Linked DNA regions of Homo sapiens. The protein of the gene in region 1 interacts with the protein of each later gene in a biochemical or structural test. Each region holds a gene or a part of one and is shown in the gene's direction. Other genes may lie near its edges.

What was found.
Region 2: the proteins of DNMT1 (region 1) and BAZ2A form a complex in vitro, tested with the Homo sapiens proteins (one study listed by BioGRID).

The regions. Positions count from the first base shown.
Region 1 is NC_000019.10:10,132,774-10,136,172, reverse strand, and holds the end of DNMT1 (DNA (cytosine-5)-methyltransferase 1), read left to right. Parts: coding exon 1-52; intron 53-320; coding exon 321-437; intron 438-1,865; coding exon 1,866-1,956; intron 1,957-2,471; coding exon 2,472-2,506; 3' UTR 2,507-2,827; downstream 2,828-3,399. UniProt on the Homo sapiens protein: Methylates CpG residues. Preferentially methylates hemimethylated DNA. Associates with DNA replication sites in S phase maintaining the methylation pattern in the newly synthesized strand, that is essential for epigenetic inheritance.
Region 2 is NC_000012.12:56,606,241-56,613,531, reverse strand, and holds part of BAZ2A (bromodomain adjacent to zinc finger domain protein 2A), read left to right. Parts: intron 1-298; coding exon 299-517; intron 518-1,285; coding exon 1,286-1,759; intron 1,760-1,898; coding exon 1,899-1,959; intron 1,960-2,992; coding exon of another isoform or gene 2,993-3,014; coding exon 3,015-3,123; intron 3,124-3,316; coding exon 3,317-3,418; intron 3,419-3,585; coding exon 3,586-3,796; intron 3,797-6,103; exon of another isoform or gene 6,104-6,616; intron 6,617-6,798; coding exon 6,799-6,899; intron 6,900-7,219; coding exon 7,220-7,285; intron 7,286-7,291. UniProt on the Homo sapiens protein: Regulatory subunit of the ATP-dependent NoRC-1 and NoRC-5 ISWI chromatin remodeling complexes, which form ordered nucleosome arrays on chromatin and facilitate access to DNA during DNA-templated processes such as DNA replication, transcription, and repair.

The DNA.
Region 1 (3,399 bases):
GGACGGCTTCTTCAGCACAACCGTCACCAACCCCGAGCCCATGGGCAAGCAGGTAGGTGGGGAGGGGGCATCCGAGGGCCTGGGTCAGGCCCTGTACTTGGCGGCCTAACTAGGTGGAAGTGTGGGTTTAGCCAAGTGGGGGACAGCACCCCAGGACCCCAGGCACCTGGCCTCTGCCTCCTGCCCCTCCACGTCCACGGGACAAGCTCATAGGCCAAGGCCATGGCCGTATGCTGTCACAGTGCCATTTCCCTCCCTGTCCCCGACGGTGACCCGGCCTGGGTGCTACTGCCCTCGCCCACCGCGCCTCTTTCCCCCAGGGCCGCGTGCTCCACCCAGAGCAGCACCGTGTGGTGAGCGTGCGGGAGTGTGCCCGCTCCCAGGGCTTCCCTGACACCTACCGGCTCTTCGGCAACATCCTGGACAAGCACCGGCAGGTCAGTGGGGCGGCGCCCGCTGGGTCTGGACAGGAAGGAGGCTTCTGTGCCTGTCACCAGGTGGGGCTGGGGCCAGCGCAGTCACTTCCGGGAGGACGCCTGCTGGCTGCCGGGTAGCCCCATCACTCTCAGTGGGAAGACGGCCCACAGGAGGGACAGTGCTGAGACATCCGAGTCAGGCTGCGTCCCTATGCTGGTTCCTTACTGTTTGTTTTTGAGGCAGAGATTGAGCCAGAAGGACAGTCCGTCGCGCTAAAGGAGCAGGCTAAAACCCATGGTGGCGACAGCTCACTCGCTGTAGGTTCAAATGAACTAGCACCTTAATTCCTACCTGCTTCTCAGGTGTCGGGTTGGCTTAACAAGTTAGTCTATGAGTTAGTCTCAGTTAAGTGTATTTTCATCATAGGGCACGCGCATTGCTTAAAAACCAGTGTCCACGGTTCTTGTGAAAACCACATTTCACCCCTCCCCCCGAATCTGGTTCTCGGGAAGCAGCCACTCTCTCTTTTTTTTTTTTTTTTTTGAGATGGAGCTTTGTTCTTTCGCCCAGGCTGGAGTGAAGTGGCGTGATCTCAGCTCACCGCAACTTCCACCCCCCTGGTTTTAAGTGATTCTCCTGCCTCAGCCTCTTGAGTAGCTGGGATTACAGTCATGTGCTACCACACCCGGCTAATTTTTGTATTTTTAGTAGAGATGGGGTTTCACCATGTTGGCCAGGCTGGTCCCGAACTCTTGACCTCAGGTGATCCGCCTGCCTCGGCCTCCCAAAGTGCTGGGATTACAGGCATGAGCCACTGCGCCGGCCAGGGAAGCAGCCACTCTTAACTGGGAGCGAAACGTGTCTAGGTGGCCCATTTGTCTTTTTTTTTTTTTTTTCTGAGACAGGGTCTCACTCTGTCCCCTAGGCTGGAGTGCAGTGACATGATCTCTGCCCACTGCAACCTCCACCTCCAGGGTTCAAGTGATTCTCCTGCCTCAGCCTCCTGAGGTGCTGGGATTACAGGCATGTGCCACCATGCCCAGCTAATTAGTTTTTGTACTTTTAGTAGAGACGGGGTTTCACCATGTTGGCGAGGCTGCTCTCGAACTCCTGGCCTCAACTAATCCACCTGCCTTGGCCTCCCAAAGTGCTGGGATTACAGGCGTGAGCCACTGCTCCCAGCCCCACGTGTCTTTGTCTCAAGTCTTTCTGAAGCTCTTCAAAGGCCCAGTGACTTGTGGCTGTGGGGCGGGATGATGGGCCAGTTGGAGGGTCCAAGGATCTTGTGCTGGAAGGGTTTTGGGCCCATGTGAGCAGGACCAGAACCCTTCCCCAAGGGGTGCAATGCCCAGGTTGTCCTCCATCTGAGCAGGGGCTGGCAGTACACCTGCCCCCGGGCCTTGGGCCTGGGTGTCCACATCAGGCATTGCCCTTCTCCCCTCCTGCAGGTGGGCAATGCCGTGCCACCGCCCCTGGCCAAAGCCATTGGCTTGGAGATCAAGCTTTGTATGTTGGCCAAAGCCCGAGAGAGTGCCTCAGGTATGGTGGGGTGGGCCAGGCTTCCTCTGGGGCCTGACTGCCCTCTGGGGGTACATGTGGGGGCAGTTGCTGGCCACCGTTTTGGGCTCTGGGACTCAGGCGGGTCACCTACCCACGTTCGTGGCCCCATCTTTCTCAAGGGGCTGCTGTGAGGATTGAGTGAGTTGCACGTGTCAAGTGCTTAGAGCAGGCGTGCTGCACACAGCAGGCCTTTGGTCAGGTTGGCTGCTGGGCTGGCCCTGGGGCCGTTTCCCTCACTCCTGCTCGGTGAATTTGGCTCAGCAGGCACCTGCCTCAGCTGCTCACTTGAGCCTCTGGGTCTAGAACCCTCTGGGGACCGTTTGAGGAGTGTTCAGTCTCCGTGAACGTTCCCTTAGCACTCTGCCACTTATTGGGTCAGCTGTTAACATCAGTACGTTAATGTTTCCTGATGGTCCATGTCTGTTACTCGCCTGTCAAGTGGCGTGACACCGGGCGTGTTCCCCAGAGTGACTTTTCCTTTTATTTCCCTTCAGCTAAAATAAAGGAGGAGGAAGCTGCTAAGGACTAGTTCTGCCCTCCCGTCACCCCTGTTTCTGGCACCAGGAATCCCCAACATGCACTGATGTTGTGTTTTTAACATGTCAATCTGTCCGTTCACATGTGTGGTACATGGTGTTTGTGGCCTTGGCTGACATGAAGCTGTTGTGTGAGGTTCGCTTATCAACTAATGATTTAGTGATCAAATTGTGCAGTACTTTGTGCATTCTGGATTTTAAAAGTTTTTTATTATGCATTATATCAAATCTACCACTGTATGAGTGGAAATTAAGACTTTATGTAGTTTTTATATGTTGTAATATTTCTTCAAATAAATCTCTCCTATAAACCACCCTGGGTGGGTATTCGTGATTTGCACGGGACTTCTGGCTGAGGTCAGACAGGAACAAGCTCTTCCATGCTGAAGGCGACCCACGTGGAGTTTGAAGCTAGCACGTTTGAAGCTAGACACTCCGTGTGTCTGTCTGTGTTTGTTCAGAACTGAGTCACGTGAGTTGATCCCCATGACATGCAAATGGAACTTGCTAGTGTAGCTTCCAGGAAAGCCTTTTAAAGGAAGTCTTGGCTGGCCTTCCCCGTGGCTGGTAGGCCTTCTTTGGTCTGAAGTGGGTTGTGATGCCTGGCAGTGGAGCAGCCATCCTGTGACCATGAGGCAGAGCTCTGTGCTGCAACTGGTGGAATAAGGAGAGAGAAGTCACCACTGAGCTGCCCTTGGAGCCCCGGCCACCCCATCCCCAAGCAAAACCTCTTTAGTTGGGTTTTTTTTCTTTCCAAAGAATTTTTTTTTTTTTTTGAGACAGTCTTGCTCTGTTGCTCAGGCTGTAGTGCAGTGGGGCAGTCTCCGTTCAATGCAGCCTCTGCCTCCTGGGTTCAAGAAATTCTGCCTCAGCCTCCCGAGTAGCT
Region 2 (7,291 bases), on another chromosome or scaffold:
CCTTTCCTTTCATTTTCACCTTGTAGAGATGAGGTCTTGCTATGTTGTCCAGGCTGGTCTTGAACTCTGGCCTCAAGCAATTCTTCTGCCTCGGCCTCCCCTCAAACTTTTATGATCCCTATAATCTCATGACTACTCTTTCAGGGAGAAGGCTTTACTTGTTACCTAACTTAATATTAGGAAGAATCTTCACATTGTGGGAACTAGAATTGGATGTTTTCTGACCAGTGTTTCTTAAATCTTGCTTTCTGATTTTTTTCTCATTATCCTGCTCTGATTTTTCTACCCTTGTAAACAGAGCCAGTGAGTGGAGGACTATATGGTATTGATGACACGGAGCTGATGGGTGCAGAGGACAAGCTGCCTCTTGAGGACAGCCCTGTGATTTCTGCCCTTGATTGCCCTTCCCTCAATAATGCTACTGCCTTCAGTCTCCTGGCAGATGATAGTCAAACATCAACCTCTATCTTTGCCAGTCCCACCTCTCCACCTGTCCTAGGGGAGTCTGTCCTGCAAGGTAAGTGACGGTAGGTAGGACAAAGAAAGACCTTTACCTGAGAAAAGATGAGAGAATAAGTTTCATAGTTAGGGCCTTAAGAGTGGGAAATCTGGCTGGGCGCAGTGGCTCACGCCTGTAATCTCAGCACTTCGGGAGGCCGAGGCGGGTGGATCACCTGAGATCAGGAGTTTGAGACCACCTGGCCAACATGGTGAAACCCCGCCTCTACTAAAAATACAAAAATTAGCCAGGTGTGTTGGCACATGCCTGTAATCCCAGCTACCTGGGAGGCTGAGGCAGGAGAATCGCTTGGCCCCAGGAGGCAGAGGTTGCAGTGAGCCGAGATTGTGTCGTTGCACTCCAACCTGGGCAACAGAGCAAGACTCCATCTCAAAAAAAAAGTAGGAAAGCAAGAGCACCTTGCTGGGAGCTGAGGGGCTATGGGATAGTGTATGGTGGAACTAAAAGAGGTATAGGCTGCTATACTCCGACCTGTGCCCTCTGCTTTGAAGAACTTGTGAGACTTGGAATTTGTAGGGAGAAGGAGGCTAGAAGCTTTATTGGCACCAGGTAAAAGGTATTTCTTCACACAATGACATCTGTAGCAACTTTACCCTTTAATCCTCATGATTGGTTGGGAGAAAAAGCTACTTCTTTTTCCAACCCTAGGGAAGACCCCTTGAAGTAACCCTGTTTAGCTTGGTCCAGGGTTGACTGAGTAGATTCTCTTGTTTTATGTGATGCCTTTTTTTTTTTTAAAGCCTATCCTGTCCCTTTGGATTCTAGATAACAGCTTTGACCTGAATAATGGTAGTGACGCTGAACAGGAAGAAATGGAAACTCAATCTTCAGACTTCCCACCATCCCTGACCCAGCCAGCTCCTGATCAGTCATCCACTATTCAGCTACATCCAGCAACCTCACCAGCAGTCTCGCCAACAACCTCCCCAGCAGTCTCCCTAGTGGTTTCTCCAGCAGCCTCCCCAGAAATCTCTCCAGAAGTTTGTCCCGCAGCTTCTACAGTTGTCTCTCCAGCAGTCTTCTCAGTGGTCTCTCCAGCTTCCTCAGCAGTCCTCCCAGCAGTCTCCTTAGAAGTCCCGTTGACGGCTTCAGTGACATCCCCAAAAGCCTCTCCCGTAACTTCCCCAGCAGCTGCCTTTCCAACAGCCTCCCCAGCAAATAAGGATGTCAGCAGCTTTCTAGAAACCACTGCTGACGTGGAAGAGATCACTGGAGAAGGACTCACTGCTTCTGGTAGTGGTGAGTATCCAGATTCTATTCTATCCCTGTCTGGTTCCAAGAAACTTTTCTGTCCCATGTTGTAGTTAGCCTTTCCCTATTGGCCTATTGTTTAAATATTTTGCTTGAACTCTTAACTTGGGTATCCCTTCCTCCCAAGGTGATGTCATGAGGAGACGTATTGCTACCCCAGAAGAAGTTCGTCTTCCCCTCCAACATGGGTAAATGCTCTAGTTTGCTACATTTATTGACCTTGACAAGTTTAATGCACAACTCTAGAAAGAAGGGAATGCCTCTTTTCCTCTGAGGTGGGGGAGGAATGGGCCAGACAAGAGTAGATTACAGGACAGTTATCTGCAGTGATAATGTTTCTTGGCATGAGATTCCTAGGTTTTCCTTCTTCTCTCAAGGTCTGTCTTCCATCACCTATTCTTTTTTCATCTTGTAGTGACTCAATTTTGCCCAAGGAGCTCCAGCTATTATCTTTTCCAAACCCTAGGGCTCACATCCAAACCAGCTGGCTTGTCCTATTTCTGTGGACAAGGGATAGTAATGAATGAGGAGTGACTTAGTACTAATGAATTGAGGTGGTTTTGTTGTTTTAATGCTCTTAGGAGAGGTAAGGGCAGGAACAGTACATGACCAAAATGAACAAACTAGCTGACACCAGGGCCTTGTGGAAATAACTGCCTTCCTGGATCTTCCCCACCCCTGCCCCTCAAGGCTACTTGTGGTCACCAAGTCTGAGTACTGCTTAAAATTTTGAGAGAAAGATTAGAGTTAGTCTTAGAACTAACTCTGACTAACTTTGTGTTCTGCTCAGAACACAGAGTTCCTAACTAAACCCTGGCATATTGAGTCTTTTCATGGAATCAGCAGCAAATTTATTTTTCTGCTTGCCTCCCTGCCCTTTGTCTTCTGTCTTTATTCCCCTTAGGTCTTTATCCTCTTTACTGGAAATCCAGTAACTGCCCTGAATGGCTCAGGGAGGGGTTTCTGGCAGCTTATCTCACTGATTTTGTAAAGGAGGGATGGAGATCTCTCTGAGCTTGTGCAGTTTGGTGTAGTGCTTTTCTCCTAAGGGCCTTGATGTATTTGCTGGAGCTCAAGTCAGCCTTCTAGCCAAGCTTATCTCTCTTGGTGCTTTTGCATCTGCATGCAGTTCTAGAGATACAAATGTGGGGAGGGCCATCTGCTCAGAGGGCTTCGCGCTTAGGTGGCATGGGAGTGGGTAGGGGTGTGACCTGGCGGCAGGGCCCATGTGCTTCTCTGGCAGGTGGCGGAGAGAGGTGCGCATCAAGAAGGGCAGCCACCGATGGCAGGGGGAGACCTGGTATTATGGCCCCTGTGGGAAGAGGATGAAGCAATTTCCAGAAGTGATCAAGGTAATGTAGCTTTTTTTAAAGGACTGCTTTCTTGGGCTCAGTGGACTCCTTTCCACTGCCCAAGACTCCGTTCTTGGGCTCAGTGACAACAGGCTGGCATTGTCTGCTCTGGGCCTGTTCTGCTTATGCCTTTGCTGGCCAAAGACATGGTAGGATCCAACTTTATTAATGTTACTTTACTTCTTCCTCTTAGTACCTGAGCCGCAACGTGGTACACAGTGTCCGCCGAGAGCACTTCAGCTTCAGTCCCCGTATGCCTGTTGGAGATTTCTTTGAAGAAAGAGACACGCCAGAGGTGCAGACCCAAGGGTTAAATATGCTTTTGTCCCTGAGGAAGAGTTGGTGGACAAGCTGCAGCTTCCTCTCGTGGGGTTTGAAGGTTCTGGGGCATTGAATGGTTCCGAGGGCCTCGTGGCCTGCACTGATTCCTTACTACTGTAACAGTCTCCCTTGCTACCTTAGGGCTTGCAGTGGGTGCAGCTCTCAGCAGAGGAGATCCCGTCGAGGATTCAGGCAATTACTGGCAAACGGGGTCGACCTCGAAACACTGAGAAGGCTAAGACTAAGGAAGTCCCCAAGGTGAAACGGGGTCGAGGTCGGCCACCTAAGGTCAAAATCACTGAGCTATTGAACAAGACAGACAACCGCCCCCTAAAGAAACTGGAGGCCCAAGGTACAGTGGTATTTCTTACTTTGGGATTCTGCTCCCTCCATGAGGTATCTAAAATGTTGATGAATTGCTAATACCTGGATTTCCCAGGAGTGTAACTAACATTATCTGGGAAGAATGAATCTGAATCAGCTTCTCCTTGGAATCCAGCATCCTAGTCCCAGCGCTTGGGAATACTACTTTTCCAGCCATGGTCTTTCTTGAGTTGCTGTTACCAGTGAAACCTTGGGCTGCCCCCAGGTGTGTTTAGCCCAGAGGAGAGGACTTTCTTGCCCTTTCTTTCCATCTTTTAGCTCCTTATCATATACTGGTTCAGTTGTACCCTTTTACCTTACCCATTTCTACTATCATGGAGGTTCAGAATTCACATCTGAATTCAAAAGATAATTGGGAGCCAGGCATGGTGGTGTGTGCTTAATAATCCCAGTTACCCAGGAGGCTGAGGCAGGCAGCAGAGGATCACTTGAGCCCAGGAGTTTGGAGGCTACAGTAAACTTCAGTTGTGTTATTGCATTCCAACCTGGGCAACAGAGCAAGGCCCTGTTTCTAAAAAAAATAATAGGCCGGGCACAGTGTCTCACACCTGTAATCCCAGCACTTCGGAAGGCCAAGGCGGGCGGATCGTGAGGTCAAGAGATTGAGACCATCCTGGCGAACATGGTAAAACCCCGTCTCTACTAAAAATACAAAACAAAAAATTAGCTGGGCGTGGTGGTGTGTGCCTGTAGTCCCACCTACTTGGGAGGCTGAGGCAGGAGAATAGCTTGAACCTGGGAGGTGGAGGTTTCAGTAAGCTGAGATTGCGCCACTGCACTCCAGCTTGGTGATAGAGCTAGACTCTGTCTCAAAAAAAAAAAAAAAAAAAAAAAAAGCCAGGCACGGTGGCTCACGCCTGTAATCCCACCACTTTGGGAGACTGAGGAGGGCAGATCACCTGAGGTCGGGAGTTCAAGACCAGCCTGACCAACATGAAGAAACCCTGTCTCTACTATAAATACAAAATTAGCCAGGCATGGTGGCGCATGCCTGTAATCCCAGCTACTCGGGAGGCTGAGGCAGGAGAATGGCTTGAACCCAGGAGGCAGAGGTTGCAGTGAGCTGAGATCACACCATTGCACTCCAGCCTGGGCAACAAGAGTGAAACTCCATCTCAAAATAATAATAATAATATAATAATAATAATAGGCACTGTTTTAGTGGATGGACAGGTGAGAAATACCTACATTTTTCAGTAAATAGTGTGTTTACCCTGGTGTAGTGTGAAGAATGTGAAAAAACTTAGTCTTTTGATTTTCACTCAGACATCTAGCCGTGTCATGTTTCAACCAAATGACCTAGAACAAGTCTCATTTTGTTTTTTTTTTTTTGAGACAGAGTCTTACTCTGTCACCCAGGATGGAGTGCAGTGGCACGATCTTGGCTCACTACAAGCTCTGCCTCCTGGATTCACCCCATTCTCCTGCCTCGGCCTCCCGAGTAGCTGGGACTACAGGTGCACGCCACCACACCTGGCTAATTTTTTGTATTTTTAGTAGAGACGGGGTTTCACCATGTTAGCCAGGATGGTCTCGATCTCCTGACCTCGTGATCCGCCCACCTCGACCTCTCAAAGTGCTGGGATTACAGGTGTAGCCCCCACGCCTGGCCCTTTTTTTTTTTTTTTCCAGATGGAGTTTTGCTCTTGTTGCCCAGGCTGGAGTGCAATGGCGCGATCTTGGCTCACCGCAACCTCCCAGGTTTAAGCGATTCTCCTGCCTCAGCCTCCAGAGTAGCTGGGATTACAGGCATATGCCACCACGCCCAGCTAATTTTGTATTTTTAGTAGAGATGGGGTTTCTCCATGTTGGTCAGGCTGGTCTCGAACTCCTGACCTCAGGTGATCCGCCTGCTTCAGCCTCCCAAAGTGCTGGGATTACAGGTGTGAGCCACTGCACCCAGCTAAGTCTCATATTTTAATCAAAGCCTTAGGTAGTTCATCTGCCCATAATATCTGTCTTAGAGGGTTGTCACGTAGACATGTGGTGGCGTTTCTATACCAGAAACAAAATAATAAATATTGTCATGTCAGGGCCAGGCACGGTGGCTCACGGCTGTAATCCCAGCTCTTTGAGAGGCTGAGACCAGCGGATCATGAGGTCAGGCAATCAAGACCGTCATGGCTAAAACGGTGAAACTCCGCTTGTACTAAAAATACTAAAAATTAACTGGGCGTGGTGGCACGCGCCTGTAGTCCCAGCTACTGGGGTGGCTGAGGCAGGAGAATCGCTTGAACCTGGGAGGTGGAGATTGCAGTGAGCCGAGATTGTGCCATTGCACTTCAGCCTGGGCGACAGAGTGAGACTCCGTGTCAAAAAATATATATATGTATATATAGTCATGTCAGAAACATCAATTATGAAATACTCTTGTTTGCAGAATTATACTTCCACAAGTCTTCCCGAAAGGAAGAAATTCAGAACTTTTAGTGAAGCAAGACATGGAGCTGAGCATGATCAATAACTATGTCAGTGATTCTTTTGAGGTGTCCACTGTGTGGGCCTTTTTTCTGGCACACCCTTGGTTAATCAGTGCTTCTAACTACTACCCTCTTTCCCTGGCAGTTTGGCTTGCTGTATCCTTTCTCTGCTTTCTGCTCTAAAATCAGTCCGTGGGTTTCTGCTCTTGTCAGGTATCCTGGGAGAGAGATTGGCTCCAAGGCTACTCTGCCATTGTGGCCTCTTTTCTATCAGCAGGACACCTTCTAAAGCAGTCTGATTGGAGCCAGGGGCTGGTGCTTCTGGGCAGGAGATGTCATTTGAGTTCTTTGTGCCACCCCCATAGCAGGTGCCTCTCCTACATTTTTTCCCCCAATGTTTTATTATGTATACTTAAAAAAAAAAAAAGCTACTCTAGATTCTTCAGGGAGCTGCTTGGGAGGCCAGCTTTGAGACGGGCATGTGTTGCCCTGGATGCTAGAGAACTGCCTTCCTGCCTCACTTGTTTCATTTTTCTTTCTGCTCTCACAGAAACATTGAATGAGGAGGATAAAGCAAAGATTGCTAAAAGCAAGAAGAAGATGAGGCAGAAGGTTCAACGGGGAGAGTGTCAGACTACTATCCAAGGGCAGGTGAGGGACATCAGAGAGATGAAACAGTAGGTTAATTTTTCCTACAACTTACTTCATCTTTTATTTTCATTTCCCACATCCGTCACTCCCTGTGTAGCAGCATATCTTCATTACCCTGAAATTTCTTGCACTTGATTTAGAGAATTGGGTTTGTTCAAAAATAACGTGGGCATCTCTAGGGTGAGAGAATTAATCCATTGCCAACCCCTCATTCCATCTCTCACCTCTCCTCCCCAGCACCCTTGTCTGTTTTTGAATCCTAGCCCAAGCAGAGATGCTTTCAGAGTTTGAGGAGAAATGACTTCCCTTATGGTTTACAGGCCAGAAATAAGCGGAAACAAGAGACCAAGAGCTTAAAGCAGAAGGAAGCTAAGAAGAAATCCAAGGTAGGT